Linked DNA regions of Homo sapiens. The protein of the gene in region 1 purifies or fractionates together with the protein of each later gene. This does not show direct contact. Each region holds a gene or a part of one and is shown on either strand. Other genes may lie near its edges.

What was found.
Region 2: the proteins of PLAAT2 (region 1) and SCAF8 purify together in Homo sapiens (affinity purification with mass spectrometry; one large-scale study listed by BioGRID and IntAct). This does not show direct contact.

Annotation. Positions count from the first base shown.
Region 1 is NC_000011.10:63,553,115-63,556,935, reverse strand, and holds part of PLAAT2 (phospholipase A and acyltransferase 2), read left to right. Parts: intron 1-3,821. UniProt on the Homo sapiens protein: Exhibits both phospholipase A1/2 and acyltransferase activities. Shows phospholipase A1 (PLA1) and A2 (PLA2) activity, catalyzing the calcium-independent release of fatty acids from the sn-1 or sn-2 position of glycerophospholipids.
Region 2 is NC_000006.12:154,806,128-154,809,948, forward strand, and holds part of SCAF8 (SR-related and CTD-associated factor 8), read left to right. Parts: intron 1-1,942; coding exon 1,943-2,074; intron 2,075-2,558; coding exon 2,559-2,671; intron 2,672-3,821. UniProt on the Homo sapiens protein: Anti-terminator protein required to prevent early mRNA termination during transcription. Together with SCAF4, acts by suppressing the use of early, alternative poly(A) sites, thereby preventing the accumulation of non-functional truncated proteins.

The DNA.
Region 1 (3,821 bases):
ACAGTTTCATGATAACCATCTCACTTTAGAATTCTCATTCTAAAGCAGCAGACAGATGAGGCAGGAGCCTCGACGTGGTTGCATATTCCTTTCTGAAGCCCTCTTTGTTTAGGAGCAATGCATTCTTGAATCCTCCCTTACTGGTGACTAGGAGTGTTTACACCTTAGCCTGTGCACCGTAGATTCAGGGTGTGGGAGGATTTAGCTGTTCTGTTGTATGATAGGAGAAGGAGAGGTGATAAAAAGGGGAGATGGGTAAGGAAAATCCACAACTTCTGGAAACAAGTACCCCAGGAGGGAGACCACGCTATTAACTGAGAGACTGCCAGGCCATGCTGGGCACTGGGGCACGGTGGGACATGCTCTGGTACTCAGTGGGAACCCTGCTGACAGGGTCTCCCCTCTGTTGAGCTGAGGAGGGTAGACCTATCTCTGAATGGGAGGGGTGTCGGAAGGGGATTGGGGGTGGGCTGCCTTATCATACATCTAAAAGCTCTTCTATAGGCTGTGCAGAAGCCACAAAATCAATCTGGAAGACCCCAATTTTAGGAAGTGGTTGGCCCTCTGCTATGCTTCTGAGGGGTCAGAACTCAAGCCAATGGGGAAGACTCAGGGGAGGCAGTTTTATTTAGTTTGTCCCTTGTCCTGGAGCCTCTCTTGTTGAACTTCATCTCCTGCAGGTCACCCAATAACTTGCCTTTCTTTCTTCCTCTCCCTCCTTCCTTCTCATCTGACTCTGTCTGTCTGGAAAGACTCTCCTCTGTCTGTCTCTAGCTCTTGCTCTGTAAGAAAGTGGACTTGTGAAAGCTGCAGGACTCTTGGCACACAACAACGCCATCCAGCCCCTGCTCTAATAGATGACCAAGCTCTAGCACTGCTTCTGGCAAAATAAGGCTGTGTCCGTAGGATGACCCTAGCCCCCCGATAAATGCCTGCCTAAGAAAGCTCTCTGCTGCCAGGAGAATTTACCATTTGTTCTAACGAACACCTGACAAAGACCCTGACCCTTTCTTAGACTGTTTATTACAAAGGACTTATAATTATGAATCCTTCCTCTGTCCCTTTGAAACATAGATACAGTCATCTCTTGGTATCCATGGGTGGGGAAGGGATTGATTCCAGGACCCCCTGAGGACACCAAAATCCATGGATGCTGAAGTCCCTTGTATAAAATGGTATGATATTTGCATATAACCTGTGCACATCCTCCCATGTACTTATTTTATTTTCGAGACAGCATCTCACTCTGTCACCCAGGCTGGAGTGCAGAGGTGCTTCACTGAAATGTGATCTCACCTCATTGCAGCCTCAACCTTCCTGGGCTCAGGGGATCCTCCCACCTCAGCCTCCTGAGTAGATGGGACTACAGGCACACGCCACCACACCCGGCTAATTTTTGTATTTCTTTTTTGTAGCAATGGGGTTTCACCATATTGCCCAGACTGGTCTCAATCTTCTGGGCTTAAGTGATCCACCTGCCTTGGCCTCCCAAACTGCTAGGATTACAGGCATGAGCCACTCATAATTACTCATAATACTCAATGCAATGTAAGTAGTTATACTGTATTTTAAAAATGTGTATTATTTTTTATTGTTCTTTAAAAAATTTTTTTTCCAAATGTTTTCAATCCACAATTGATTGGATCCATGGATGTGGAATCCATGGATATGGAGGGCTGACTGTATATCCCTTACAACTCTGAAGTGCCTTCCTCAAGGACCTGAGAGCCAGTCCTTTGAAATATAATCATCAGGAAGGATAGAGCCTCTGTCCCCAATATCCGTGGGAGGTTAGAATCCTAACTTTGATAATTGCCAGCTAGCAGACACAGCTGGCCTCATCGCATATTCAGGGACTAATCCTTTGTAATATTTCACCTCCCTGACTCTATGAGCCCTCGCTCACCCGTCTCCCTACTCCTCCATCTCCCTTTACAATGTCAGTCACCTCTGCACAAATTGGAATGGAGCTCAGCTCTTTCCCTGCTGTCAGTAGAGACTGAATCAAATCTGTTTTTGCTGTCTTAAGTTATGTCTGGCTTTGTTTGTCTTTGACACTTGGAAACAATTCTGAGTGTATTTGAATAAAATGGTTTTTTTTCCCCCTTTCTTTTCCCCAGTCACTCACATGCTTCAAATTCATTGATACTCCACAGAAATCTGCTATTTGGTCGCTGGTTTAAATACTTGCTTCCCTGTCTGTGAAGGGCTTAAGTGCCCCTGTTGGGAAGTCAGGCAGATCTGAGCCTTGTCACTTGTCAGCTGTGTGGCTTTGCGTGAGTTCTTTTTTTTTTTTTCTTTTTTTTTTGAGACATAGTCTCACTCTGTCACCAAGGCTGGAGTGCAGTGGCGTGATCTTGGCTCACTGCAACCTCTGCCTCCTGGGTTCAAGCAATTCTCCTGCCTCAGCCTCCCAGGTAGCTGGGATTATAGGCACCCGCCACCATGCCTGGCTAATTTTTTTTAGTGGAGACGGGGGTCTCACCATGTTGGCCAGGCTGGTCTCGAACTCCTGACCTCAAATGATCTGCCCACCTCAGCCTCCCAAAATGCTGGGATTACAGGTGTGAGCCACCGCCCCCCCGGCCTTTGCGTGAGTTCTTTACACTGTCCATCCTCAGTCTTCTCCTCTGGAAAGTAGGAATTAGAATCACTACCTCCTAGAGTTGTCAGGCAGATTAAAAAAAATACTGGGCCTGGAGAGTTCCCAGCACAGTGCTGATATCTAGAAAGCAGCCATTCTCACAGTTTTCACCCCCACCCCCCACCCCGTGTTGTTTCCCCCAGTCGCTCCAGTGCTAGTCTCTCAGAGACAGTGGCCCAGGCAGGGCAGACCCACAGGATCGCAGCAGACTGTCTCGGCTAGCTCCCAAAAGCTGTGCCGAGCACACCAACCCTCGGGGGTCGGCCTCACATCTCTGTGGTTTTTTCAGTTTCTTCTTCCTTTTGCAGAACCATTTCCTGCCAGCACATAAGTGAGACAATCTTACTCATTAAAGCACACCCTCAATGCTCCTCATGGGCCAGCATTTGTTCAGCAGATGAATTATGAGTGCCGACTCTGTGCCTGGCAGTGGGATCAGCACCTGGGACATTGAGACCAATCCAGGCGAGCTCCCTGCCCTCAAGCCTGTGTAGTGAGAGTTCCCAGGGGTGATTTCCCAACTTCATATCTGCCTCAAGGGCCCCAGTCAGCCAGCCCTGACCTAGAACATTGGGGCACTGCCCCTCTGTCCTTGCTGGGGGTTTACTATGCTTTTTGCTTTAATTATTATTGTTATTTTTTAAGACAGGGACTCACTTTGTCACCCAAGCTGGAATGCAGTGGTGCAATCTTGGCTCACTGCAACCTCCGCCTCCTGGGCTCAAGTCATCTTCCTGCCTCAGCCTCCTGAGTAGCTGGGACTACAGGTGTGCACCACCTGGACTCAGCTGTTTTTTTTTTTTTGTATTTTTTTGTAGAGATGGGGGTCTCACCATGTTGCCTAGGCTGGTCTTGAACTCCTGGGCTCAAGCAATCGGCCCATCTCAGCCTCCCAAGGTGTGAGGATTGCAGGTGTGAACCACTGAGCCCGACCTATTATGCTTTTAATACCCACAGGTGCATCTGGTTTTCCTCCTTTGACTCTGTGTATATCACGCCTATGGCTTCATTCTTCCATTCATTCTGTGCCCACCAGACATCTCCACTCCTCTTTCCTGGGTGGCCTGACCTCTTGGCATCCCCTCTCCCAGCCAATATTTGTTCCCTCTGTGATTCAAATGAAGAGGACTGGGCCAGATGAGTCTTTCCTGAGCTGTAGTTTCCTGGTGTATGTATC
Region 2 (3,821 bases), on another chromosome or scaffold:
TAAGAATTTTAAAACATCGATAACTAAATGTAACATCCTTTTGAGTTGTAAGGATCCTTTAAGTTCATCTTACGAATTTGATAATCTTTGACAAAATATTGCACCTTAGAACTGATAAAATATGTTAAGTTGTAGAGCTAGGATTAAATTTATTTCAAAGCCTTTTTCTGCTGTATGTGAGAAATGGTTACGCATGTAAACTGTTCAGAATAAAAGTATTAGGAAACCCCCTTTCCCTCCCCAGCATACATCCTAATATTAAAAAAGTTTTGGCATTAATGAGTTTAACAAAAATATCACAAAATATTTTTGAGTATGTGTTACTTGTTAGGCAAGTGTTACATACAGAGATGAACAGAAATGAGGTTGTGGCATCAGGTAACCTCTTCTCTAATGGAGCACGTACATCTGTATGAACACCTGGCAGAATTCTTTATTTTTGTCATAGAGGTACAGCTGAAGGATTCTAGGAGCATGGAGGGGGGAACAGTTATTTTAGATGGAAGAGATAGCAAACTTGAGACATTGGGGTCTGAACTTGACTTTTTAATGCAAACAGTAATATAAAATGGATGTTAATGATATTTGCTGCATTGGAACTCATGCCTAGAATTATGAGAATGGAATTTCATACCTTTTTTTTGAAGAAACAATTCTGATATAAGTGGCCAGAGTAGGGGCAGTATTTTATGTCAAGCAAATGTATCTGCCTGAGAACCCAGAAGTTGAAGATAGAACACAATTAAGAACATTTAGATGTTGTTTAAAGAAAAAACAAAGTTGTAACTCAAAACAAACAGCTCGTCAGTGATGTAATAATACAAAAATCACAGAACTGCTAAGAGAGGCAGGAGGTAGTCGTGATGGAAGAATTTATCCAAACAACAGATTTGTTGAGCTATAAATGTAACACTTTGTGAATTGCTTTAGTCATAGTTTCATTTTAGAAGGTTTAGCAGAAGCACTGTAATCGTAGTACTTTATGTTTTTAATGGTCTCTCTCTTAGCAGAATCAAGTAGTCTTAACAAGCTTGTAATTAGCACCATGTTATTGAAGTAAAAATAAACTTGAGAGAGAGCGAGTCTGTTGTAAGAATCTCACCTACCAAAAAGAGAGAACTCTGGGCTTAGTTAATTACTCTATATATCAGTTCCAAAATTTCACAGCTTAGAATAATAAGATCCCTTTGAAAGGAATAGAAGTTCTGAAAAACCTCATTGTTCAAAAATGAATCTAATGAAGAAAAGAGAGTGGTAAAACTAGAACTGTTTTTATAAGGTAGATAGTATAAAACCTATGAGAGATTTAGAATGCAGATCTCGGCTCACTGCTACCTCCGCCTCTCAGGTTCAAGCAGTTCTCTGCCTCAGCCTCCTGAGTAGCTGGGATTACAGGCATCCGCCACCGTGCCCTGCTAATTTTTCTGTATTTTCAGTAGAGACGGGTTTCACCATCTTGGCCAGGCTGGTCTTGAACTTCTCACCTCGTGATCCACCCGCCTCAGCCTCCCAAAGTACTGGGATTACTGGCGTGAGCCACTGTGCCTGGCCTGTTTTTTCTTTGTAGCATTTTTTATTAATGCCAATTATCAGTGAAAATCTAGATTCATTTAACTGACTGCCATTATGTATTTTTCATGCTATAATTTATTTATTAGTCCTCTGTAGTTTATATTTTCACAATTGAAAATTTACTTGATTTTACCATTTTAATATTTTAGTCCCTTCCTTTTATGGAGCTGTTCTCTGCTTTTATATAAAAATGAGTTTATACAAATGTTTAATTTTGGATTGATTACTTTATAAATGATTTAACATGGAATTTCTTTTATGTATGGCTCATGTTTTTAAACATGTAATTGTGATGTTTGCTGTGTTTACATTTTCATTCATAACAAAAAGTATCTCCCAATCTTTGTGTGTTTGTATATGTTCTCAATAGGCCACTCCTCAGGATAGTCAGGAAGGAACCTTTGGGTCAGAGCATTCAGCGTCACCATCACAAGGGAGTAGTCAGCAGCATTTTCTTGAACCTGAAGTCAATTTGGATGATTCCATAGATATTCAGCAACAGGTAAAAGTAAATGTTTTTCTGGGTCATAAATTTCTAAAAGTAGCTAAAGAAATCATAAAATATTTTATACTAGCAGTGCCCTGAATATATTTTTCCCACACTTAAGCTCCACTTTGTAATTGTTTCACCTATTAGGCCAAGCTTGTCCAAGGCCTAAGCATGGCCCCTAGGCCAAGCACATGGCCCAGAACTGCTTTGAATGCAGCCCAACACAAATTTGTAAACTTTCTTAAAACAATATGAGATTTGTTTTTGCGATTTTTTTTTTTTTTTAAGCTTATCAGCTGTCATTAGTGTTAGTATATTTTACGTGTGGCCAAAGACATTACTTCTTCTAATGGGGCCCAGGGAAGCCAAAAGATTGGACACCCCTGTATTAGGCATTAATGCTCCCATCGTCAATATTTTTAAAAACAGAATTGTCAATGTATAACTCTGTCTCAACCAGCCTTTCTGTTTGTTTGCTGTTCTTTTGACTTTCAAGGATATGGATATAGATGAAGGGCAAGATGGAGTGGAAGAGGAGGTCTTTGAACAAGAAGCTAAGAAAGTGGCGGTTCGCTCAAGATCAAGAACACATTCACGATCTCGTTCAAGGTTCTACAATGATATTTAATAATAGCCGTGTGTGAACTTTAAAATGTTGGCTTTATTTCTTTGCATCAGGATGAAAGGAAATGTTTCCTTGGGATGACATATTTTTTCTCAGTCTCTCGGAAAAAAAGTTATTCCAAAAACAAGATAACCTTTGTTCTGTTTTAATTGGTATATCTGTGGCTATTTATTTCAGTAATTTACATAAGATTGGCAGCCATATCATGAGACAGGGATTTTGAATTATATTTTATTTTAGTTAATATTATGATGACACCCAATTTAGAATATTGTTGCCCCTGAACAACAGTTAAGTCAGGCCATATTTCCTGGATTCCACTCATCTCACAGTGATACCAAAAATGGTTATAAAAATGAAACTACAAAATTTATTTTTATAAACATTAACTGTAATACCAAACCGTTAGGAAACAGTTTTCTTTATGAGCTTAACTTAAAGACATCAGTCTTTAACATTTTTGTATCCTATTTTTTGCGTATGAATGCCCCTGAAAATCTGAACAGTAAATGGTGTAAGAGGGGCAGTACGTTTGATGAGTTTTTCAGTCATTTCTTTTTCTTGTCACAAAGTTCTTTATATTTATCTATTGCAAATGAGAGCCTGTCAGTTCAACTTTCTCTAAACCCACCGCGTATCACTGAATTATTTTCCTGAAGCATTAACAATCTTAATGCTGAAGATATCTTCATTTGTCATTAGCAGCATCTTACTAAGCATTTTGAAGAGAGCTCAATGGCATGTGGTTGACAGGCAAAAAAGAAAGTGTTTCAGTGTCACCTTCTACAAGCACCATAAAATTTTATAAGTTGGAAACTACTAAGCAGAATTATGTAGTGGCCTAATGCTCTGACACTTAAATGGTCTTTTAATTTTCTTTGGTCTTTCATTCCTGTTCTTCTGTTTGAAAAATGAGTTGGAATGCACTAAGAGAAAGTGAGGCCCTTTCTAGAATCTTTTTCCTCTTCATTGTGAATAGTCACCCATACTCAGAATCATTGCCAACTAATATGGACCTAAGCAGCACACGGATTTAAGTAAAATGCATTTTTGAGACTTGATTTTACTTCAGAATATTTTAACATATTGTCACTAAATATAAGACAACTTTTTTGTTATTGTTTTTTCCCTCAC